Homo sapiens: one gene and its partners. The protein of the gene in region 3 interacts with the protein of the main gene of each other region in a pairwise test. Each region holds a gene or a part of one and is shown on either strand. Other genes may lie near its edges.

Region 1 (7,584 bases), on a different chromosome or scaffold from region 3:
GTCCAGCAGGCGCCGCGCGGGGCCACCCCCGGGGCCGCGCAGGTCCCAGTGGAGCACGCGCTGGCGGTCGTGCAGCCGGTCCTGGGTCCACACCATGCGCGGGCTCTGGCAGCGCAGCACCGCCCGGGCGCCCGCCTCCCAGCTCACCGCGGACTCGGACACCACGGAGCTGCCAGCAGCGGCGGGTACCGAGGACCCTGGTGGGGGAGGGGAGTCGGTGGGGGAAGGGGTGGGCCCCCTAGGGCCCTGGTTGGGGGAGTCAGTGGGGGAGGGGCAGGGCCCTGGTGGGGGAGGGATGTCTGTAAGGGACGGGCAGGACCAGAGGGCCCTGGTGGTGGAGGGGAAGTCCGTGGGGTGGGGCAGACCCCCGAGGGCCTGGATAGGGGAGGGGGAGTCACTGGGGGAGGGGCGGACCCTGATGGTCCTGATGGGGGAGGGTGAATCAGTGGGGGAGGGGCGGGCTCTGAGGACCCTGGTGGAGGAGGAGGAGTAACTGGGGGAGGGGTGTGCCCCAAGGACTCTGGCGGGGTTGGGGGCATCTTTGGGGGGGTGTGGGCCCCTGAGGCCCCTCGTGGTGGGGGAGATTCCATGGGGGAGGGGCATGCCCCCTAGGGCCCATGTGGGGGAAGGGGAATCATTGGGGGAGTGGTGGACCCCCGAGGGCCCTGGCAGGGGAGGGGGAGTCCATGGGGGAGGGCAAGTCAGTCGGGGAGACATGGGGCCCAAGGACCCTAGTGGGGGATGGGGAGTCCATGGGGGAGTGGTGGGCCCCGAGGGCCCTGGTGGGGAAGGGGACTCAGTAGGGGAGGGGCAGACCCCGAAGGCCCTGGTTGGGGAAGGGGAGTCAGTGGGGGCATCTGTGGGGGAGGGGTGGGCCCCCGAGGGCCCTGGTGGGTGTGCGGGAGTCTGTGGGGGAGGGCCAGGCCCCCAAGGGCCCTGGTAGGGGAAGAGGAGTCATTGGGGGAGGGGGAGTTATTGGCAAGGGGAGGTGCCCAAGGGTCCTGATGAGCAAGGGGGAATCAGTGGGGGAGGGGCAGGGCCTGAGGACCCCCGGGGGCTGGGCCTGGCAAGATAGGAGGGGCTGAGGGGGAGTGGGGGTGGGCAGCTGGGGCTGGGGTCACTAACCTGAGTGCAGGAGAACAGCAGAGCCTGGAAGGAGAGGAGTGAGCTGGAGAGGCCACCCACAGCCCCACCCAGCCCCGAGACCCCCCACTTGGCCCCCAGAGTCCCTCCTGTAGTCCCAAAGTGGATGCTGTGACACCCACTTCAGTGCAGGGAGGACGCCTCTCACACAGACCTACATAGCCCTCCCTGCCACCGTGCTGGGCTTTGGATGGCACCTGCCCTTGAGTGGGGAAGCCAGGGCATGGGCGTGGGCCAGGGCCAGGCTCCAAGCCAGCCGGTTCTGGGGTGTGTGCTTGTCACCGGGGCCACTCCACCTGGCTGCACCCAAGTCACCCAGAGCACCAAGGAGGCTGGATCTGTGGGTTCCCCCACGCTCCCTCCAGGGCTGTGCCCCAGCCCCCGAGGGTCCTTGGACCCTCAGACGCTGGGGACCCCACACCACACCTAAGGCTCAGCGCAGCCCCTGAGGTGCTTCCGCAGGGCAGAGGCCTGAAGGCTGAATGTGGGTCGTGACCCCGGCTGCCGCCCCACAGGCCCGCGTTGCTGCTTGAGGGACTCTCATTGTCGTAGGCCGCCTCGGCATCCACTCTGAATCTAGGCTGGACTTTCTCTGACCGGAAGCGGGGCTGCCACCCGGGACAGTTTCCAATTCACATCCCCCGTCCTCGAGCTGATCCACCCAGACGCCCGCCCTACGCACTGTCCCCTGGTGACCACCCCCTGTGTCCCCACAGACCCCACGCCCCACATGGACTGTGCAGCTGCACCACGGAGTCCCCCCACAGTCAGCGTGGCCCCACGGGGCTCGTGCCGCTTGCCTTAAACCCACCAGTTAAAACTCCCCCACCAGGCATGGTGGCTCACGCCTGTAATCCCAGCACTTTGGGAGGCCAAGGCAGGTGGATCACCTGAGGTCAGGAATTCAAGACCAGCCTGGCCAATATGAAAAACCCCATCTGTACTAAAAATACAAAAAATTAGCCGGACGGGGTGGTAGTGGGCGCCTATAGTCCCAGCTACTTGGGAGGCCGAGGCAAGAAAATGACTTGAACCCGGGAGGTGGAGGTTGCAGTGAGCCGAGATCACGCCACTGCACTGCAGCCTCCTTGGCGAGAGAGAAACTGCCTCCAAAAAAATTCCCTGAGGGAAACCTGTATGCAGAACGCCCTGATCCCAATAAAGGGTTGGCCTGGGGGTCCCTGTCTCTCTCCACTTTCCCTGGCCTCCCAGCAGTCTGTGCACCCCAGGGCCCGTGGGTGATAAAAGCTGTTTCTATCCTGTGTCTCTAGATCACTGGGGGCTGCTCTCCCTCACATAGATCCTATGTGAAAACTGCCCCAGAGATGTGGCCGAGAGCCTGGGAGCTTCCCAGAGGAATGTGCCCGGTCAGCAGCCAGCCCAGGCCTGGGAGCGGGGGCTGGAACAGACCCCACAGTTCTCAGGTCCCCTTCAATCACTGACCCACTCCCTAAACAGAGCCCCAGCAAGAGGGGCTGCAGGAGGGGCCCCGAGGGAGACGCCGCCGTGCCTGGGCCCCCAGCCCTTCTTGGCCCTCTGGGCTTCAACTCCCTAGGAGGGGAGGCTGGCCAAAGTCTAACTGAAGACGTCACAGCCTCTGGCAAGCGGCTCTCCCGAGCGCCCCCAGACCCGTCCTCTTCCCTGGTGGGACCTTCCCACTCCTCCTGGCCCAAGCTCAGATGGGCGGTTTTGTCCGAAACGGACTCGCACAGCCCCACGTGCCACCCCCCACCCGCCTCCCAGGGCCCCACACTCACTCTGCAGAAGCACAAGTTTCCAAAGCAGGATTCGGGATGGCAGCGCCATGGCCCCCGCCCAGCCCCAGGCTTTGTCCCACTCGGCTCTAAGTCTCTCTCCAGAAAAACAGCCCTACCCCCTCCCCCTCCTTAGCACCCGCGGTGACATCACGGAGGCCTGGGCCTGTCTACGGTCTGGGGACCGCCCCCTCTGGCTCCTGCCGGGCCCCTTGGCCTCCCCCATCGTTGCTGGCCTGCTGGGGAGGGGCAGTGTGGGAGCAGAGGCCCAGCCCCTCACCGGTCAGGCCTGGGGAGGGGTGGTGACCGCACCCTTGGAGGGACAAGAAGGTCCGAGGACATGGGCCCCTGATACCACGTGATCGTGTCTCACGTCTAGGAGCCTCCCGGGCCTGTGGTGAAGGGTTGGGACTGTTGGGTGAGTGGCCCCTCCGCCCCACCTCTGGCCTCCCCCCACGTGAGCCACCTCAGGGCAGGGTCCTCCCCTCAGTCTGCTCCAGGCCCCAGAAAGGCCTCCCAGCGCTGAGACCGCCCCCACCCACGGTGCACGCTGGTGCTCTCCTTCAGACCAGATGGCCCTTCCAGCTCCAACCCTTGGCCCTGCATGACCTTGGTACCCGTCTCCTCTGGGGGCCACGGTGGGCTCCCTTGGGCCAGGATGATGGACGCTGCCAGTCACTAGTCCCCTTTACAACCTGGAGAGTCAGCCAGGGACAGGGGACCCTGAGCACTGGGAGGCCTGGGGGTGCTGGGGTGAGCAGACCTCTCCCTGCTGGCCCCGTCCCCTGGGGCTGCCCGCCTTTAGGGTGCAGCCTGGTGTCCCTGAAACCAGGTGCTGGATTACAAGCCTCCTGGAGAAAGGGGAGAGTGGGACCCCTGCCATGGAAGGCACAAATTTGAAACTGTGGGAAAACTTACAAAGTCACATAAACAAATGCGAAATAACAGCCTGCACTGTGTAGCAAACCCAACTCCTTCTAATCAAGCAAACCTCAAGAAAAAACAATCTGAACAACCACAACCACTAGAAACCCTCAGTGCATAGTTCCGCCCGCCCACTTGGAGTGAGCTCTCCTTACAGGCCCCGAGGGCCCCAGCTGGGTGGGGGGCTCACCCCTGAACCCTGCTCTGGTGCCCAAGTCCTCAGACAGTGGGAAGCCCAGTGCAGATCAGAGTGGTGGTCTCAGGGCGAGGGGAGGGGAACCTGCGGCTGCTCCAGTGAGAGGAACGGGCAGGACACGGACCGGCGTAAGGACAGAAGACCCCACCCCACCCCAGCCCGGTCAGACCCATTTCCTCAGCAGGGTCCTGGCCCGGGCGGCGACCTTTCCAAACTGGCTTCAGGGCTGAACACATCCCGCCACCCCCACTCCCTCCCTGGGCCTTTCATTCTGGAAAAACAAGCCCCACCTGGCTGGCCTCGAGGCCTCTGCTGGCCTCTCCTCCTGTTTTTCCAACTGGTTTGTATTAGTGCTGGCAGCTGCCCGCCCGCCCATGTCTGTCTCCGTCGCACACTCTGGGGCCTTGGCCTCTGCAGTCTCTGTCTCCTTCCGTCACTCTCCCTGTTCCCTCTCTCCCCATGGAGGGAGGACGGACAGCAGTTTGGTGGGGGGACAGGGTTGGCCCTCGGGTCTGGGAGGGCCCGGCTCTGGGTGCAGGGCTGAGAGGGGCGCCTGGTCCGCACGACAGCCTCAGGCCAGGGCTCGCCTCACTCTGCAGGGCCGTCCCTCTCCGGGCAGTGGCCTCCAGCCACACTTTCGGGGACCCAGCCAGCGGAGATGCAGGCCAGAGGCTGTCGTCTGAGAGGGCCCTGACCTCTGAGAGGGCCACCTGGGGGCAGCTGACCCCCATGGGGCCCTGGGCAAGGAACAAAAGGCTGATGAGGCCATCAGGCCCCTTCCCTGACCCTCCCTGTCCGGCCCTCAGTGGGAAACAGCCACAGAGAAGAGCAGGCCTGGTAGTGACCAGGTCACCTGCTCCTCCCAGGGCCAGTGACCTGTGCCTCTTCTGCACCTTCCTGGGCTGGGACTGTGGAGCCTCTGCTCGCTGGGGGGTGGTCTGCAGAGCTGTGGGTGTGTGACTTAATTCCCAGCCTGGCCTGGCATTTTTCTCCCTCTGGGAAGAGGACAAACCAGGACAAAGCCACTGGCATCACTGTGCTCTGGCTAAGCCCCCAGCCAAACCAGCGCCCTGGACCGTCCTCCTAGCCCCACCTCTGGGGGTTGGGGTGGAGCAAGAGGGGTCAGCTGGCCCCACGGCCCGCACTGAGGATCTGATCTTGGCTGCCATTCCTGGTGACTCGGACATTCCAGGCAGCCCGTCTCATTGGGAAGAAAAACCACAGGCACTCAGAGCCACAAGCAGCACAGCCAAGCCCATATTCACTCCCATGAGTGTGCACAGACACATGCACACACACACAAAGACACACATGGAGACACACAGAGATACACACGCATGCACACGAAGACACATGGAGACACAGACACGCATGCACATGAAGACACGGAGACACACAGAGATACACGGAAACACAGACACATGCACACACGCGAAGACACAGACACATACACATGCATGCACATGAAGACACGGAGACACAGATACATGGAAACACGAACACAGACATGCGCACACACGACACACATGGAGACACGCATGCATGCACATGAAGACACACGGACACACAGAGAAGATACACGGAAACACAAACACACAGACACAGGTCCACACACAGAAACAGAGACACACACAGACACACATGGAAAGACACACACAGAGACACGGACCTGTGGCCGCACAGCGGATCATCGATGGCTGAAGAGTCCCACTTCCTGTCGTTCAGAAGCGTTTGCTGACCACCTCCTGGGTGCCAGGCTTGCTGGGCACTGGGGACTCAGCACTAAGCCGGGTGCCAGCCATGGCCCTCTTGGACCCCAGCCTCCTGGACTGTGCTGCATGTGGTGGAGGGAATGAGACAGGGGTCGGGGGGCGCCCAGGCTGGAGGGGCGAGGACGGACGGACCCAAGGAAGCAACCTCTGTGACAGCAAATGCCAGGCGAGGCCTGAGGACGCGGCTTCCAGGCGCAGCCAGTGGCGGGGCTGCCAGGAGTGGTCTTGGGACGCCAGGGACCCTGTGTGTGTGGTAGGGGGGCCACTGCTGACACCAACACAGACAGGGTTAGGCTCGAGGACAAACCGTATTCGCCGCCGCCGCACCTGCCACGCACATCGGAAGCGTTAGCACAGTTTTCCCTGCGTGGGGCTGGGTCTCCTACCCAGGCTGAGTTTCTCCCCTCTAAGAGGAAACACCGCCAGCCTTCTTTCTCCTACGGCCTTTGGATTCTGAAAACTCGCTGTGGGGAGGGACGTGAGGCTTCGGCACCAGGAACCCCTGCGGGCTAAGACGGTGTTGGCCAATCACATCCAGTCACTCTCCTGGGAAAGTCACTTTTATGGAGACAGCCCCCCAAGGGGGTCTCAAGATATATTGAAGTTTTGGTTAGTTATGTATGCTGACTAAATTTACAAGTAAACTTGTTTATCAAAAACAAAAGAAAATGTGTTAATCCGTTATAGCCGCTTGTGGCGACTGTTCCCGGCCATGTCCCTGGCTGACTGTTTTCCTGCTGATCCTGACCAGCGTCCCCGGCAGCCATGGCCTGCATTCGTGTTGGTCCCTCCTCCTGCAGCCCCGAGGAGGCAGGGCTGTCTGTGGATCCCAGATCGGTTGTCGGAAGGCCCGGAAGAGGAGAGCTGCCCTCCACCACCACTGTCTCCTCCTCCTGGACAACAGAGTCAGGACACTGCTGAGATGGGGTGAAGCATAATTGTTGCACTGAGACTCAAAACTACAGGCAAGAAGGTTTGAAAATACAGAAACATTTCACAAATCATCTGCCTCCTCTCGAGTAGTATCTGGCTTGTTCTAAACATGCAAATGCAGTGAGACGGGCTGCCTGGTACACACACATCGCCCCGGAATCATGACCTTAGGCCCCAGGGCCACCTTCTGTAATTTTTTTTTTTTAAGCCACAAAGTCTCGGCCAGGCAAGATGGTTCACGCCTGTAATCCCAGCACTTTGGGAGGCCAAGGTGGGCAGATCACCTGAGGTCAGGAGTTCAAGACCATCCTGGCCAACATGGTGAAACCCTGTCTCTACTAAAAATACAAAAAATTAGCCAGGCGTGGTGGCAGGTGCCTGTAGTCCCAGCTACTTGGGAGGCTGAGGCAAGAGAATTACTTGAACCCGGGAGGTGGAGGTTGCAGTGAGCCGAGATCGTGCCGTTGCATTCCAGCCTGGGAAACAGAGTGAGACTCCATCTCAAAAAAAAAAAAAAAAAAAAGGGTTGGGCGCGGTGGCTCACATCGGTAATCCCAGCACCTTGGGAGGCCGAGGTGGGTGGATCACAAGGTCAAGAGATGGAGACCATCCTGGCCAACATGGTGAAACCCCGTCTCTACTAAAAATACAAAAAATTAGCCAGGCGTGGTGGCAGGTGCCTGTAGTTCCAGCTACTTGGGAGGCTGAGGCAGGAGAATCACTTGAACCTGGGGGATGGAGGTTGCAGTCAGCCGAGATTGCACCACTGCACTCCAGCCTGGTGATAGGGCGAGACTCCGTCTCAAAAAAAAAAAAAGAAAGGAGTGAAACCCCATCTCTACTAAAAATACAAAAATTATCC
Region 2 (7,434 bases), on a different chromosome or scaffold from region 3:
GCAGGAGAATCGCTTAAATCCGGGAGGCGGAGGTTGTAGTGAGCGGAGGTCGCGCCACTGCACTCCAGCCTGGGCGACAGAGCGAGACTTCGTCTCAAAAAAAAAAAAAAAAAAAAAAATTTCTGTGTAGCCAAATTTTATCTTTTTCAATAAACAATACATTGACCACTTTTCTGGTTTTCACAGTGGCCATTTACACTGTTCTGATTGAAAAGTGTATGTAGATTCCTAAATGGAATGTATCTTAAATCCCTAGCCTTCTCAGGCTAGAGGGGGATTTTACGTTTTCTATGAGCTGTTGATAATCGATACATGCATGACAGCATAGCTGACACAATGGACACACAAAGATAAACACAGCTCTCTGTTCTAAATTGTTCTTTAAAGTAGTGCTTTTCTTTCTCAATTTGAAAGTGCTTTTTAGCTCTACAGCAACTACTAAGTGATAAAAGGATAAAGAAAACCTTTAATCCATATTAATTCGATAAAAAAGTCACTATCATGTGAGATATTCCACTTAAAAGGCAAAACACTTAAAATACGGCCTTTCCTCCCATATAAAATTTAAACACAAAGAAATGTTTTAACACTGAATGTAATTTAAACCAGGCAATTCAGTTTGGAGGCTTGATACTCTCTATGTAGTTTCTACTGATGTGAGGAATTTTAAAAAGATGATTTATGTTAATTCTTTATCAGAACAGAGGGGGGACTGTACATTTTCTATGAGCTGTTGATAACTGATGCATGTAGTAAAATACCATATGTGTTCTAAACTCTCCATCTTTTTGTTTAGTCCAATCAAGGACTATATAGTTACTTAAATGGTTTGGTTTGTATGAGTATAAGAAATACTTTAAATTAAAAGTAGTCAGTGATCAAAGTTCATAACTGTAATAAATAACAGCTGGCCATACCTTGTAACCCTCCCATTCCAAAGAGGTTTAGACCTGTATCTTTCACAGGCAAGTCTCCTGCAGTCTCATCAGTTGGACCAGACATGGCCTAGCTGTGGAAAAAAGAAAATTCAAATAAACTCTTTCCAAATTATTACATTAACTATGCAATGGAATGAACCAAATAAAACGAAAAAGGGACTAGAACTTTAATGGGCATCTTATTGTCCACATGTGCTGCTTGGAGAAGATGAAAGCTTCTATTCTAATAGTACTACTACATTCAGTCATGGAGACAGTGTTCCTTTCAACAGTGTATTTCCTATAGTTTGCTTAGGAAATGAAGTAAGATTATCATTTAAGAAATACCTCCTCTCCATCCCTTTCCTCTCCCCAGCCTCCAAAAGAAAGCAGATATCTTGGAAAAAACTCAGGTCAGGAACTTGATTCAAATGGTTGCTCTATCATTAACAAACTAGTCAAGCCACCTAAACTCTCTGAGTTTCAGTCTCTCAGTTTTAAAAATGGAGAAAATAATACCTATCTCAGAGAGTTATTCTAAGGGTAAATGGGATGAGTAAATTAAAAGCACTGATCACATGTGCCTGGGATGTCAATATTACTCAAATATTGTCTGCTTGATGTACAAATGAGTGGGCAGTTCTGTGCATTTTGTGAGTTTTGTGAAAGAGGTTTCGTTGCATAAATTTACCAACTGGGTTTGTGTTTTTTTGTGTGTGTGTCTTGCCTTTGTTGCCATGAGGCCTAGGTCTCACCCAGGGTTCAACTACTTCAACATATAGGCTCTCTAGCTAATTCTAGTATTTTTGTAGTTTCTATTCTTTACAGAAATACACCATAGTAACTCTATTTTGAGTATGGATGTGAGTGGTCCACACAATATCTAGTATGCAAAAATAAAGGATTTTATATTTTCATTTCAATCTACCTAGTAAGCTACATGCAAACTGTGAATGAAGATACTCTAAAGGGCAGAGTTCTTAAGCTCTAGGATATTGGTTCTAGAATGTAAAGACCAAGACAGTAGCAAGCTTCATTGTCTTGTTCAGCTCTGTATTCTTGGAGGCTAGCATAGAGCGTGGTGCATTCTGAGAGCAGGCATTCATTAAATAGTTGTTGAGTGAGTGAATGGAGTCCATGGGGTTTCAGGGTCTGTGAACCCAGAGATGGTTTACCAAATTTTGTATGTATATGTATATATGCAATATCTTTTAAAGAGGGTTCATAACTTTTATTACAACTCGCAAATGGTGGAGAACCATTGCATTTTGCTTTTACAGAAACAGCTAACAGACAAATCCTTGGGAGATCATCTACTTCTTTTGGAAGTACTCCTATAGAAAAGGTCAATTTTTAGGATCCTGTTGACACATAGGCCCGTGTATGAAAATGATTAGTTTTCCATGACAGAGTTAAGGTCACTTTAAAAATAATAATGATGATGATGATGATGATGGTGTTAACATTCATTGAACGCTTACTATGTGCCAGGTACTGTTCTAAGTGTTCTGTTATAGGAATGAAGTGTCTCACCATATCCTTGTGAGGCTGTTACTCAAATGATTCCTGCTTTACAAATGAGGAAGCTGAGACACAGATTAGTTAACTCACTTAAGGTGGTAGTTGAAAGTATTAATAGTTGTGTCTGGTGATATTTTTGGTTGTCACAACAAGGAAGCGGGATGCTACTGGCATCTAGTGAGTAGAGGCCATGGATGATGCTAAATATCTTACAGTGCTTAGGAGACATAATAATGAATTATCCAGCCCAAAATGTTAATAATAGTGTAGAAGCTGAAAAACCCTGCACAATGCTGCAATGCCTCTCCAACACCATCTTATGTTATCCTTCTTTGCTCACTATGCTTCACTTACATTATTCTTTACTTTCCTCGAACCCCCCATACCCTTGTCTTGCTCAAGGCCTTTGTATTAGCTGGTTCCTTAATCTTTGGAGCTCAGTTCACTTCCTCAGACAGGTTTTCCCTGACCATCCTATGTTAGAGTAGTCTTCCTTACATTTCTTCACTGTTTATTTCTTTTCTTTTCTTTTTTTTTTTTTTGAGACAGGGTCTTGCTATGTTGCCCGGGCTGGCCTTGAATTCATGGGTTCAAGTGATCCTCCCACCTCAGCCTCCCGAGTAGCTGGAACTACATGTGCGTGCCACCAAGCATGGCTTGTATCTCTTATAGCAACTGCCTCTATCTGAAGTTATCAGATAAAATTATTGTTTGTCTCCACTAAAAAAGGATAAACATCTTGAGACGGGTATTAGTCTTGTTCACAACTGTTCAGGAACAGTGCCTGGTACAGGGTGGGAACCAACATTAATATTTATTGAATGATTGGCTGTGCGTGGTGGCTCACACCTGTAATCCCAGCACTTTGCGAGGCCGAGACGGGCGGCTGACTTCAGGCCAGGAGTTCGAGACCAGCCTGGCCAACATGATGAAACCCTGTCTCTACTAAAAATACAAAAATTAGCTGGGTGTGGTGGCACACGCCTGTAATCCCAGCTACTCGGGAGGCTGAGGCAGAAGAATCGCTTGAACCTGGGAGGAGGAGTTTGCAGTAAGCTGAGGTCTTACCACTGCACTCCAGCCTGGGCAACGGAGCAAGAACCTGTCACACACACAAAAAAAAGAATAAAGAAAAAATATTTATTGAATGAATAAATGAATATCAGGTACTGAGATTAAAATGGCAAGCAAAACCCCCGCCTTTATGAAGCTAGCAAGTTATGGAGGTAATCACATGATAAACAAATAATATATAATTAAGCAAACAATAGACCACTCAGGAGGTTTAGGGTCTACCAACCAACTCCTAATCCAGGGCAAATGAGCAAACTGTGTTAGGGACCTACAACTTGCAGGATCTGGATAGAGATGGCAATTAGCAGCATCAACTCTCACCTTCATGGCTGGGATATAACATTTCAAATTGGTCCTGGACGTGGGGATAAAGGGCGGCCTGTGATTCAGGCCTGAGGATGTGGAGGTGTCTTGGGCTGGGCTGCTTTCACGCCAGCAGAACTCCAGGGCCAACTCCAGGGCCTTCTCCAGGCGGCAGAGCGGACCCTAGGACCCCGGCCCGCGCTGCAGTGGGGAGGGTCAGCAACCTCCACCCACCCTCATCCTCCCCCATCCTCCCGGGTACTCACCGTGCCACTGGCCCTGCAGCTAGCTACCGTTGCTATAGCGCCGACAGCGTGGCGGGCGGCTGGCCGAGAGGAGCACGGGAGAAACATGGCAGGCTCCCGTAGCCTCCTGGGAAATGTAGTTCTCCTTGGACTCTAGCCTGTTTGCTCGCGGGGTAGCGGACTACGCTCTTCCAGCTGTCGGACCTGGGAAATTCTCCTGTGCTAAATCCCGTGGCGCTCGCGGGTGTCGCCGCGGTGCATCCTGGGAGTTGTAGTTTTTTCTACTCAGAGGGAGAATAGCTCCAGACGGGAGCAGGACGCTGAGAGAACTACATGCAGGAGGCGGGGTCCAGGGCGAGGGATCTACGCAGCTTGCGGTGGCGAAGGCGGCTTTAGTGGCAGCATGAAGCGCACCCCGACTGCCGAGGAACGAGAGCGCGAAGCTAAGGTATGTCGGGCTCCCGGGGCCTGGAGATCTTCGTGCGCTGTGAGCAAGGATCAGGGAACCGGAAGGGCTTGGTTTGATGGCGAGCGGATGCGCGGTGTTAAACTAAGGGATGACAGGGCCTTGTCAGCAAGGGACCTGGAGATATTAGAGGGGATGTTACAAATTCGTGCTCTTCAGGATGCAGGCCGAGTCTTGTTGGATCGGCTCAAAAATGAGAAGCAAGATACCCATTTCCTTGTCCTTCTTCTGCATCTATTCCTTGGTTAAATTTGTCGCCATCCCTGTGCCTCAGTTTACCGGATTCTCAGATGACTGTGATCATACCAGCTGTGCTTTCTCATAATGGTCTCTGAGGACTGAGATCGGCTTAGATGAAATATCTGTGCAGTCAGCTGTGTTTCTTTGGAACAATTGTCTCCGTGACCGGCTGATAACAGTTTGTGTCTTTTAGCGCTGTGGATATGAATCTTTAACTACATTGCTCCTCTCTACCTTTGATGTTCAGCTTCTGGTAGTTGCCATTCCATGGGATGACCATAATAATGGCAACAGAGATTTTAAAAAGCATTTATTGTGGGTCAGGCACTGTATTAAGTGCATAATATTTAAATTATTTCATATCATTGTCACAGCAGATTGCAAGATAGATATTATACAGATGGAGTATAAATAACAGCCCAGCTTCACAGATGAAGAACTGAGGCTCAGAAGCATTGAGTGTTTTCCTTTCTCTCATTCCCAAACTCAGATCCTGTTGATTTGTCTACGTATATTGGGAATATGCCCACTTTTTTTTTTTTTCATCTCCACTACCTTGGACCAAGCTACCATTATCTTTTTAATAGACTGTTGGAATAGCCTATTGATTGGCCTACACTCACTCTACACCCTAACTTAACTCTTCTTCCACCTTCTCTCCCTTCCCTCAACTACCATTCTCTTCTGCACACCATAGAGTAAGATCTTCGTGAAATGCAAATATAATTATGTCCCTTTCCTTTCTCCTTACTCTGCCAACCACCTGTTTAAAAATATTCCATGGCTTTCTGTTGCTCTTAGGATAAAGGCAAAACTTCACATTGCCTACAAGATCCTGCATGATCTGGACCCTACCTGCTTTCACAACCCCATTGGATATGACACTCTGCTCTCTGCCTACCAGTCACTTTGGCCTTCTTAAAAGTCACTCTTCACTATACTTTATCGGGCTTCAGGGCCTTTGCACATGTCATTTGCTGCCTACTCTATGTTAGGCAAATATTGGCAGTGAATAACAGTGTTAAATAACGTAGACACAGTTCTTGCTTTCATAGAATTTCATCTTACACGTGAGTCTGTTTAGGGCAATACACCTAAGGATTTAAAATATAAAATCTGCTCTATATTGACCTGAGTTATTGCAGTATTTCGTAAGGGACCAGAAGTTTTCATGCTTGAGTCTGCATATGATGTGGATAATATATTAAAGATAAGCACAAAGAGGGCGACCCTTCTGCTTTAGTCTACACAGTGCAAAGAAACAAATGTCACCTCATGGTGTTGTGCATGATGTCTTTCTCATCTTTCAGGTTTATTTTTAAAGTATTTCATTTATTCTGTGAAGATTTGTTGAGCACCTATTATTTGCCATAAGTTGGGATTATAATTTTGGCTGAAATAGAATCACTGCACCAAAGAAGCTCTTACTCTATTGAAACCATAACCATTGCCTGTGAGGGAGTTACTAGTGTCATCCATATTTTAGAGATTTAGAAACTGAGACTTGTAGGTAAATCGTGACTTGCCCAAGGCCACTTGGTTGCTAGGTGAAACTAGTGCTCTGAGCCAGGTCTTCTGACTCCAAATTCAAGGCTTTTCCCATTTTCTGCTTGTGAAACATGTTGAATTAGTAGAGCAAATTGTCTTCCTTTTTTCTTTAAAAAATTGGCTGTTCATTTAAAATTTGTTTGCTTAATATTATTTGTTAGAACAAAGTATAAGTAGTTGTTTTAAATCTTAAATGTAAAGTGTCCAATGGCTCATGAATTATCTTCTCTTTTTCTAATCAATTTTATTGAGGTATAATTTACATACAGTCATTTGCAACCATTTTTGTGTACAATTTGATGCCTTTTGACAAATGTATATACCTGCAAAACCACCACAGTTGGCATAGCGAACATTTCTCTCCTAAGTTCCCTCTCGTTAATTTGTGGTTAGTCTGTCCCTCCACCTTGGCCCCCAAACAACCACTGATATGTTTTTTGTCTCTGTAGATGCATCTGTATTTTCTAGATTTCATATAAATGGAAGCATACAGTGTATACTTTTGGGTCTTTTTTTCATTCAGCGTAATGATTTTTTTTTCAAAATAGAGATGGTGTCTTGCTGTGTTGCCCAAGTTGGTCTGGAACTCCTGGGCTGAAGCCGTCCTCCTGCCTCTGCTACCCAAAGTACTGGGATTATAGGCGTGAGCCACTGTGCCTGGCCAGCATAATGGTTTTTGAGATTAATCCATGTTGTTGTATGTATCCATAATTTGTTCCTTTTTATCGCAAATTAGTGGCCCACTGTATGGAGATACCACATGTTGTTTATTCATTCACTTGTTGCTGGACATTAGGATTGTTTCTGGTTTTGGACTCTTATGAAAAAAGCTGTTTTTACCATTCATGTATGAGTCTTTCCATTTTCATTTCTGTCAAAAAAAGCTGCTATGACCATTCACCTAAGAGTCTTTACATTTTTATTTCTGTCGGGTAATGCCCAGGAGTAGAATTGCTTAGTTATAGGGGAGTTCTTTGTTTAACCTTATGAAGAAATTACCAGTTTTCCGAAGTGATTTGACCATTTGTTTTAGTTTCTTATGGCTGCTGCAACAAGTTACCACAAACTTGGTGGCTTAAAACAACAGAAATTTATTATCTTACAGTTCTGGAGATGAGGC
Region 3 (6,811 bases):
TGATCGCTGAAGACGTCAAATCCTAGAAAACATAGCATGCCTACGCGTGATGTTAACATCATTCTCGAATAGTTGTTGGTTGAAGATTCATTTGATGAATCCGATTTTTCAGAAATAGACGAGTCTGATGATACAGACGATTCTGGTGTTAGTTCTCTGTAGAAATAACTCCAAGAACACTTTTAATAGTTTATTTTCACATTGAAAATCAGATTTGCTCCAGCCTCAAAGAGTATATTTATGTAAAATTAGGTAAGCGATATAGAAGCAAGCTGCACTTTTTTTCTAAATGGGAAGGTATTAAAAAAGAAAAGTCTCATTTTAGTAACATAGTCTTCCTTAAACTCTATGCCACTTGTAAGATTTCTGAAAACTGAAGACATAGAAGGGAACGGGCTTGATATGAACGACAGCTTTGCTGGTAAATAAACCCAACTGAACCTAAGATTATCTAAGGTAACCTCTTTTTCTAGTCTTTTATTGTGTGAACAGTTACCTCCTGCTGAGTTGTTGGCAGAATTTCCATATAATCTTGCTTATGACCATTTCTACATTATTTGTATCATCTTTTAGAAGTCTTACCCAGGTTGATATAGGTTACCGTTCTCTAGATCTGTGTCTCCAATTCTTCTTACATGGCATTAGGTATTTTAAGCTTGTTTTTTTTCAGACATCGTATAGTCAATTCTTGAATGTGTTGAGAGGTGCTATGTCATTGTAAGCTTTATTCTTCTTCTCTGAATGATTAGCTTGTTTAAATTTTACCTTAAATTCTTTTTTTTCTTTTTTTTTCTTTTGAGACTGAGTCTTGCTCTGTCGCCCAGGCTGGAGTGCAGTGGTGTGATCTCGGCTCACTGCAAGCTCCACCTCCTGGGTTCACGCCATTCCCCTGCCTCAGCCTCCTGAGTAGCTGGGACTACAGGTACCCGCCACCACGCCTGGCTAATTTTTTTTTTTTTTTTGTATTTTTAGTAGAGACGGGGTTTCACCATGTTAGCCAGGATGGTCTCAATCTCCTGACCTTGTGATCCACCCGCCTCGGCCTCCCAAAGTGCTGTGATTACAGGTGTGAGCCACCGCGCCCGGCCTTTACGTTGAATTCTTTAAATTCAGCTTGTGACTTTGCACTTCAGGATTCTGAGTGTTCTCTGTCTTCTTCCTGCATTGTTTTTCTTATACCATACAGGTTTTTCATTGGCCTTGACTTTTTGTTGTTAACTCATTCTTCTTTGGGTTTATTTTCATTTGTTTCTGCTGAATATTATTTGTTTCAAACTAAAAATAACATTCCACATTTTAATTGATGTGCGGACTCTTAATCTACTTAAAATGTGGGCTGAAGTTCCATGATTCCAGCTAGTCTGGAATAGGTCATTTAACTGGATGTTAATTCACCTACATTGTTCCCTAAGTGACATGTGGGTCCCATTCTGCTGACATATTTGTGGGTCCTGGTAACAACCATTTGGGTAGATTTGCTGATTCCTCTTTTCTCCTTAGTGGAAGAGAAAGCCAATACCCACCTCCTCTTGGGCATGTGCTTAGACGCCTGTGCTCGCTACCTTCTGTTCTCCAAGCAGCCGTCACAGGCACAAAGGATGTATGAAAAAGCTCTGCAGATTTCTGAAGAAATACAAGGAGAAAGACACCCACAGGTAAGGGAGGAAAACACAGAAGGGGGAATATAAAACAAAGGCTTCAAAATTGAAGGGTGTGAAATGTCACACTCATTGGTAACAGGATCAGCAGATGGTCCTAGATCCTCCTTGGTCCCCAGTCTACTCATTTTCTTATCACCAGCACCCTCACCCCAACTACTTGTTTCAGAAAGGATTTGAGACTAGTTATCAGTTACTAGGTCTGCCCAGAACTTTTTGCATGATCCATGGTTTGCACAACAGAGCAACCTTTCTACAGAGCAGGACTGGTCAGGCTTCAATGGACACAGCACAGTATTTCAGAGTGGGGTCTCTAGATACCCCTATTAGAAGCTTATGAGGAACGGTTTAATACACAAATATCCTTGCCTCCCTTGCCCCACAGTTAAAATGGCAAGAGGTGAGGGAAGGGCAAGGGACCACATTAAAAACACTTAAACCATTGGCATATTATAGAATTTAAGTATAACGTGTAAAGCTCTGTGTTAGAACATTAAACACATTGAATTGAAATCATCTCTTTGGGTCTCCCCTCCATCCGAGTAAGTTCTTAGATGTAAGGAGTGCATTGCTTTGTCTATGAATGCTTGCTACTGCCAATATAAGACATAACAATTTTAACTGAATGTGTCCCAAGGCTGGGGTACATGGGTAGGGTGAGTAATATGTTTTGGAAGAAAAGGGAGGTTGAGCTATGAATTATCTCCATGAAAGGGATTTATAACTTATTATGAAGAGTCCCTTAATGGAGTGAGGAATAATAAACAAGCAAGTACAGAATTCAGATCTCCAAGTACTAGAGTCAGGGGGCTTAAAGCATGGCATCAGTGGGGAAGTAGGTATGGAAGTCTACCTCTTCCATACTGAAATTCCATTTCAGTAGCCAAATTAAAAAAACTCCTACTGGGCATCTTCCTAAAATAGATGGTGTATTTCTTGTTTTTGATGAGCCTCAGGGTTATCAGCAGGAACAACATAATACAGTGGGGCTCCAGAGGCAATCAAACCATAGGAGGCTGGCTTCTCAAAGTTGCTCAGCCTTAAAGGAGATAATATGTGTAGCTTCTTGCTGTTGTTTTTCATTTGGTGCTTCTAACTGGGTAATTAGTTGGATTAATAAGCACTGTCTGTTACCTAATTTCCAGATTTGTATTATTTCCCAAAAGGTCGAACTAACATTGTCCACTGTACAATGTGATTATGATTAACAAATGCCCACAAATTTGTTAAAGAATGGTATCCCTCATCTTTTGTGGAATGCTAGGAAAGATGAAATCTTATGTATTCAGAGTTGGATGCACTCCACATTAAAGTTCTGTGAAGGCATGTTTTTAAAGAAAAAATTGTTTTTTCTTTTACATACAGACCATTGTGCTGATGAGTGACCTGGCTACTACCCTGGATGCACAGGGCCGCTTTGATGAGGCCTATATTTATATGCAAAGGGCATCAGATCTGGCAAGACAGATAAATCATCCTGAGCTACACATGGTACTCAGTAATCTAGCTGCAGTTTTGATGCACAGAGGTAGGTAGCAATGTAAACTTAACTGACTTGCTTTAAGGGAGGGATGTCACTGGATTGATAGATTTGTGAAGTGGTATGTAGGGAGGGCAAGGGCCAACGAATAAACATGTAAATTAAAAGACTGGTTGAATGGCAGAAAAAGGAGGTATTGATTAGGTTGAAGTACTATTGTGTTCAATTCACGTAACTTCTACAGACCTGCACTAGCCTGTCGAACCCCATCAAGCTGGAGAAAACCTTGCAATGATAGTACCTTACGTCAGTAGTGCTTTACAGATTTCTAAATGTGTTCAGTTACAATGTGTTTCTCACAGTGTGCTGGTGAAGCTTTATGACAGGAAGTATCATTTTGTCAGACATTTCTTAGTGTCAGCACACTATACCGATCATTTTCAGAAACCTGGGATGACAGGTGTATTACACATACCACCATTCATGAAATCTTGGGCTCATCAAAGTCCTCAGGATATACTGGAAAGGGCCGTTAGGAATCCCACAGCATTCAGTGGAGTTCCAGCCTGTCAGATGGGGATGAAATGAGGCAGCACCAGCTTGTCGCTTCATAAGCACACAGTAAATTAGCCCTATATCTGCATTCATGCTCTCTCTTCAGAATCACCTTGAAAACATACACTTTCTTCTTACTGTCCCTTCTCTCTGGGTTATTTTAGAACGATATACACAAGCAAAAGAGATCTACCAGGAAGCACTGAAGCAAGCAAAGCTGAAAAAAGATGAAATTTCTGTACAACACATCAGGGAAGAGTTGGCTGAGCTGTCAAAGAAAAGTAGACCTTTGACAAATTCTGTCAAGCTCTAAATCCATTTTTGTGTAGGGAGAATAATGTCTAGTAATGTGGAAGAATAGCTATCATTCCTGTCTCTGTGGCACCCGATCAATGGCTTAAATCTGTCGTTTTTGATATTCAGGTTTCCTCAATTTAGCCTTAGTGAAGGAGGGGTTGTACACACTGCCATTTTTGTATTTTAAAGGAAAAATGACTTTCATTCCCAACTGATTATGACCTTTCAGGATGTCGTCAAGTGATGCTTTCAGTTGTAACACGTGACTTGGTGCTGTCCCTGCTGGTCTAAGTAGAACTGTAGATTCATATGGGCTGGTGTTCCTGTGCGCTGTGGGTGTGGTGATTCAGCCTGGCATTTCTACCATAAGTTTTTGGTCTGCTGATTTGCTGCCCTGTCTTCTCTTACTTTACTTTATCAATACCTGGCAAACTGACCAGAATTACCTTCCTCATGGCAAAGGGGGATTATGGTGAATTGTTGTTCTTATAGTCTGTTTCATGAAGCACAAGTGGAATTTAATACATAAAAGAGAAAAATATCTTAGTTTGCTACCAGCATCCAGCATGAAGTTGTAAAGTGGGGATTAGGCACGTGACAGTATAGCACCCATTTGAATTTAAATAAAAGTGAACCATATTTATCTGGTTATATAAAACTAAAAATGGGGGTGTTTATATAAAACTAAAAACTAAGAATGATGTAACCTTTTGTCTGTGTTATCTGAACACTCTACTTCCTTTGCAGCCTTAGTCACACAACTGAGTCATCTCAAGTACTCTTTAAGGACACACAGCCCAGGCTGTTCTGAGTCAGAATAGGCCCCTACAGGTATATTTTAAAACTCTTCGTAATTCTAATGTGTACTGCTGGTATAGCTGAACTACTGACCTGGATCTTAGTCCTAGCCTTTTTGCTTTTGCAATTTCAGTATCTTCATCTCTAAACTAGGGAAACACTGGGATTCTTTCTTAGCTGTGGGGGAAGGTATTTGGTTAGATGACTTTGAATGAATAGACTGCTGTGCTGAAAGAGCTTTATCACACTGTCTCAAAGTATGTAAAGATACATAGGTGGATGCTCTTACTGCAGCAGTCATGAATACATTTTTAGCCATTTACCTAAGGAAAAAGACAGTTTTTCTAGGTACCATGAAGGAAGATTGACCCTGTTGGTATGCCTGTGGGGGTGGGATGTGAGTGGGACTGATAAACTGATACTTTTGGTTCGTATGTACATACTGGAAGAATCTTCATAATAAATGAGACTACACAACAATATTGTATGTATCCCAGTAATCTTTGCATTTCTCAAAAAAAAAAAAAAAAAAAAAAAAAAAACTTTCTGAAGAAAATAAAAACACCAGAAACCTTGAGGTCCAAATCCTCAGGGATTAGACTAAAACTAGAGTTTTGTATGTTGCAGATGTAAATTTCTTCCTATTTTCTGTCTAATCTCATATTATTTACCATGCAGCTAATGCCGTTTACCAAGTCTAGCTCAGAGAGATAAGATACAATATAAATCAGACTGTTTCAGTAGAAACCAGTATTAACGTATGGTGATTTCTTAAAAAAATTAATGTCAACCACTCACCTTTTGCATTGAGAATGTTTTTACCTTTTCACAACTGCAGGGGTTACTGAAAGGTTTTTCATTCCAAGTTTTATTTATTTATTAATTTTAAATCATCCACAGTGACTCAGCTCATGGTCTCGTTGTTGGAAACACTAGGAGTTTTCAGGACAGTCTCTTCATGTGGGTGTTTTCATTACAGTTCATTTACACTGTTGTAAAATAAGGTACTGAAGCAAAAGGAGGACTGATCTCCTTTACTGATTGGTCTAAATTCAAAAGTGAATTGGTTAAAATCGTGTCATTAAAATTTTTTAACTGTCCAATGGTCACTGGAGTTTTCTGGGCATAAATATTTTTAAAATAGAATCACTCAGTGTACCAAAATTAAAAGCATTATGAAATTTGCAGTCATAAACATGCAGTGGAAAACTGGCTGTCAGAATACTTTTATGAAGAGTATTAGGAAGACCTTAATTTAGTTCTGGGTGCTAAAAAAATCACGTGTAAGGATATAGTGTCAGAACACTGAAATCTAAGTCTACAAAGAATATCATGTTTTGGTTTGCAGTGAACCACAGTAAGTTGTCAGTGCTGCTCTGTGCTTACCACTTAAATCATGATAAGGTGAACCTCCATAGGTAAACCATGTGAGAATTCTGTCCTTTCATTTATTTTGAACCAAGAACTATTATTGGATTTTAACTCTCATTCTGAGATTTCTTCTCCAGGTGATGGTAAATAAAGTAATACGCACATGCATTATGATGAGGATGGAGGGAGTGGTTCACAGCACCTCACCTTCGGGTCCTCAGGTAGAACTGCAAGAGTAAGAAGTTAGGCTCTGATCTGACATGTTCTCAGAAACTATACGGTTGACCTTCAAATAATGCAGGAGTTAGGGGCATAGACCCCCTAAGTAGTCAAAAATCCACATCTAACTTTGACTCCTCCAAAACTTAACTACTCATGGCCTACTGCTGACCAGAAGTCTTACGGATAACATAGTCGATTGACACATATTTTGTATATGTATTATATACTGTATTCTTACAATAAAGTAAGCTAGAGAAGAGAAAATGTTTGTTAAGATTATAAGGAAGAGAAAATATATTTACTATTCATTAAGTGGAAGTGGATCATCATGAAGGTCTTCATCCTTGTCATCTTCATGTTGAATAGGCTGAGGATGAGAAGGGGTTGGTCTTGCTATCTTGGGTGGCAGAGGTGGAAGAAAATCCATGTA

The links. Proteins that work in one complex are often made in the same cells at the same time.
Region 1: the proteins of TTC19 (region 3) and MXRA8 interact in binary tests that used the Homo sapiens proteins (3 or more experiments, as listed by UniProt).
Region 2: the proteins of TTC19 (region 3) and FTO interact in binary tests that used the Homo sapiens proteins (3 or more experiments, as listed by UniProt).

What each region holds. Positions count from the first base shown.
Region 1 is NC_000001.11:1,355,556-1,363,139, forward strand, and holds the start of MXRA8 (matrix remodeling-associated protein 8 isoform 2 precursor), read right to left. Parts: upstream 3,001-7,584; 5' UTR 2,950-3,000; coding exon 2,901-2,949; intron 1,150-2,900; coding exon 1,126-1,149; intron 198-1,125; coding exon 1-197.
Region 2 is NC_000016.10:53,699,722-53,707,155, forward strand, and holds the start of FTO (alpha-ketoglutarate-dependent dioxygenase FTO), read left to right. Parts: upstream 1-4,434; 5' UTR 4,435-4,463; coding exon 4,464-4,508; intron 4,509-7,434. Other genes in the region: RPGRIP1L (protein fantom), read right to left, coding at 918-1,002.
Region 3 is NC_000017.11:16,023,517-16,030,327, forward strand, and holds the end of TTC19 (tetratricopeptide repeat protein 19, mitochondrial isoform 1 precursor), read left to right. Parts: intron 1-1,500; coding exon 1,501-1,655; intron 1,656-3,023; coding exon 3,024-3,186; intron 3,187-3,857; coding exon 3,858-4,006; 3' UTR 4,007-5,888; downstream 5,889-6,811. UniProt on the Homo sapiens protein: Required for the preservation of the structural and functional integrity of mitochondrial respiratory complex III by allowing the physiological turnover of the Rieske protein UQCRFS1.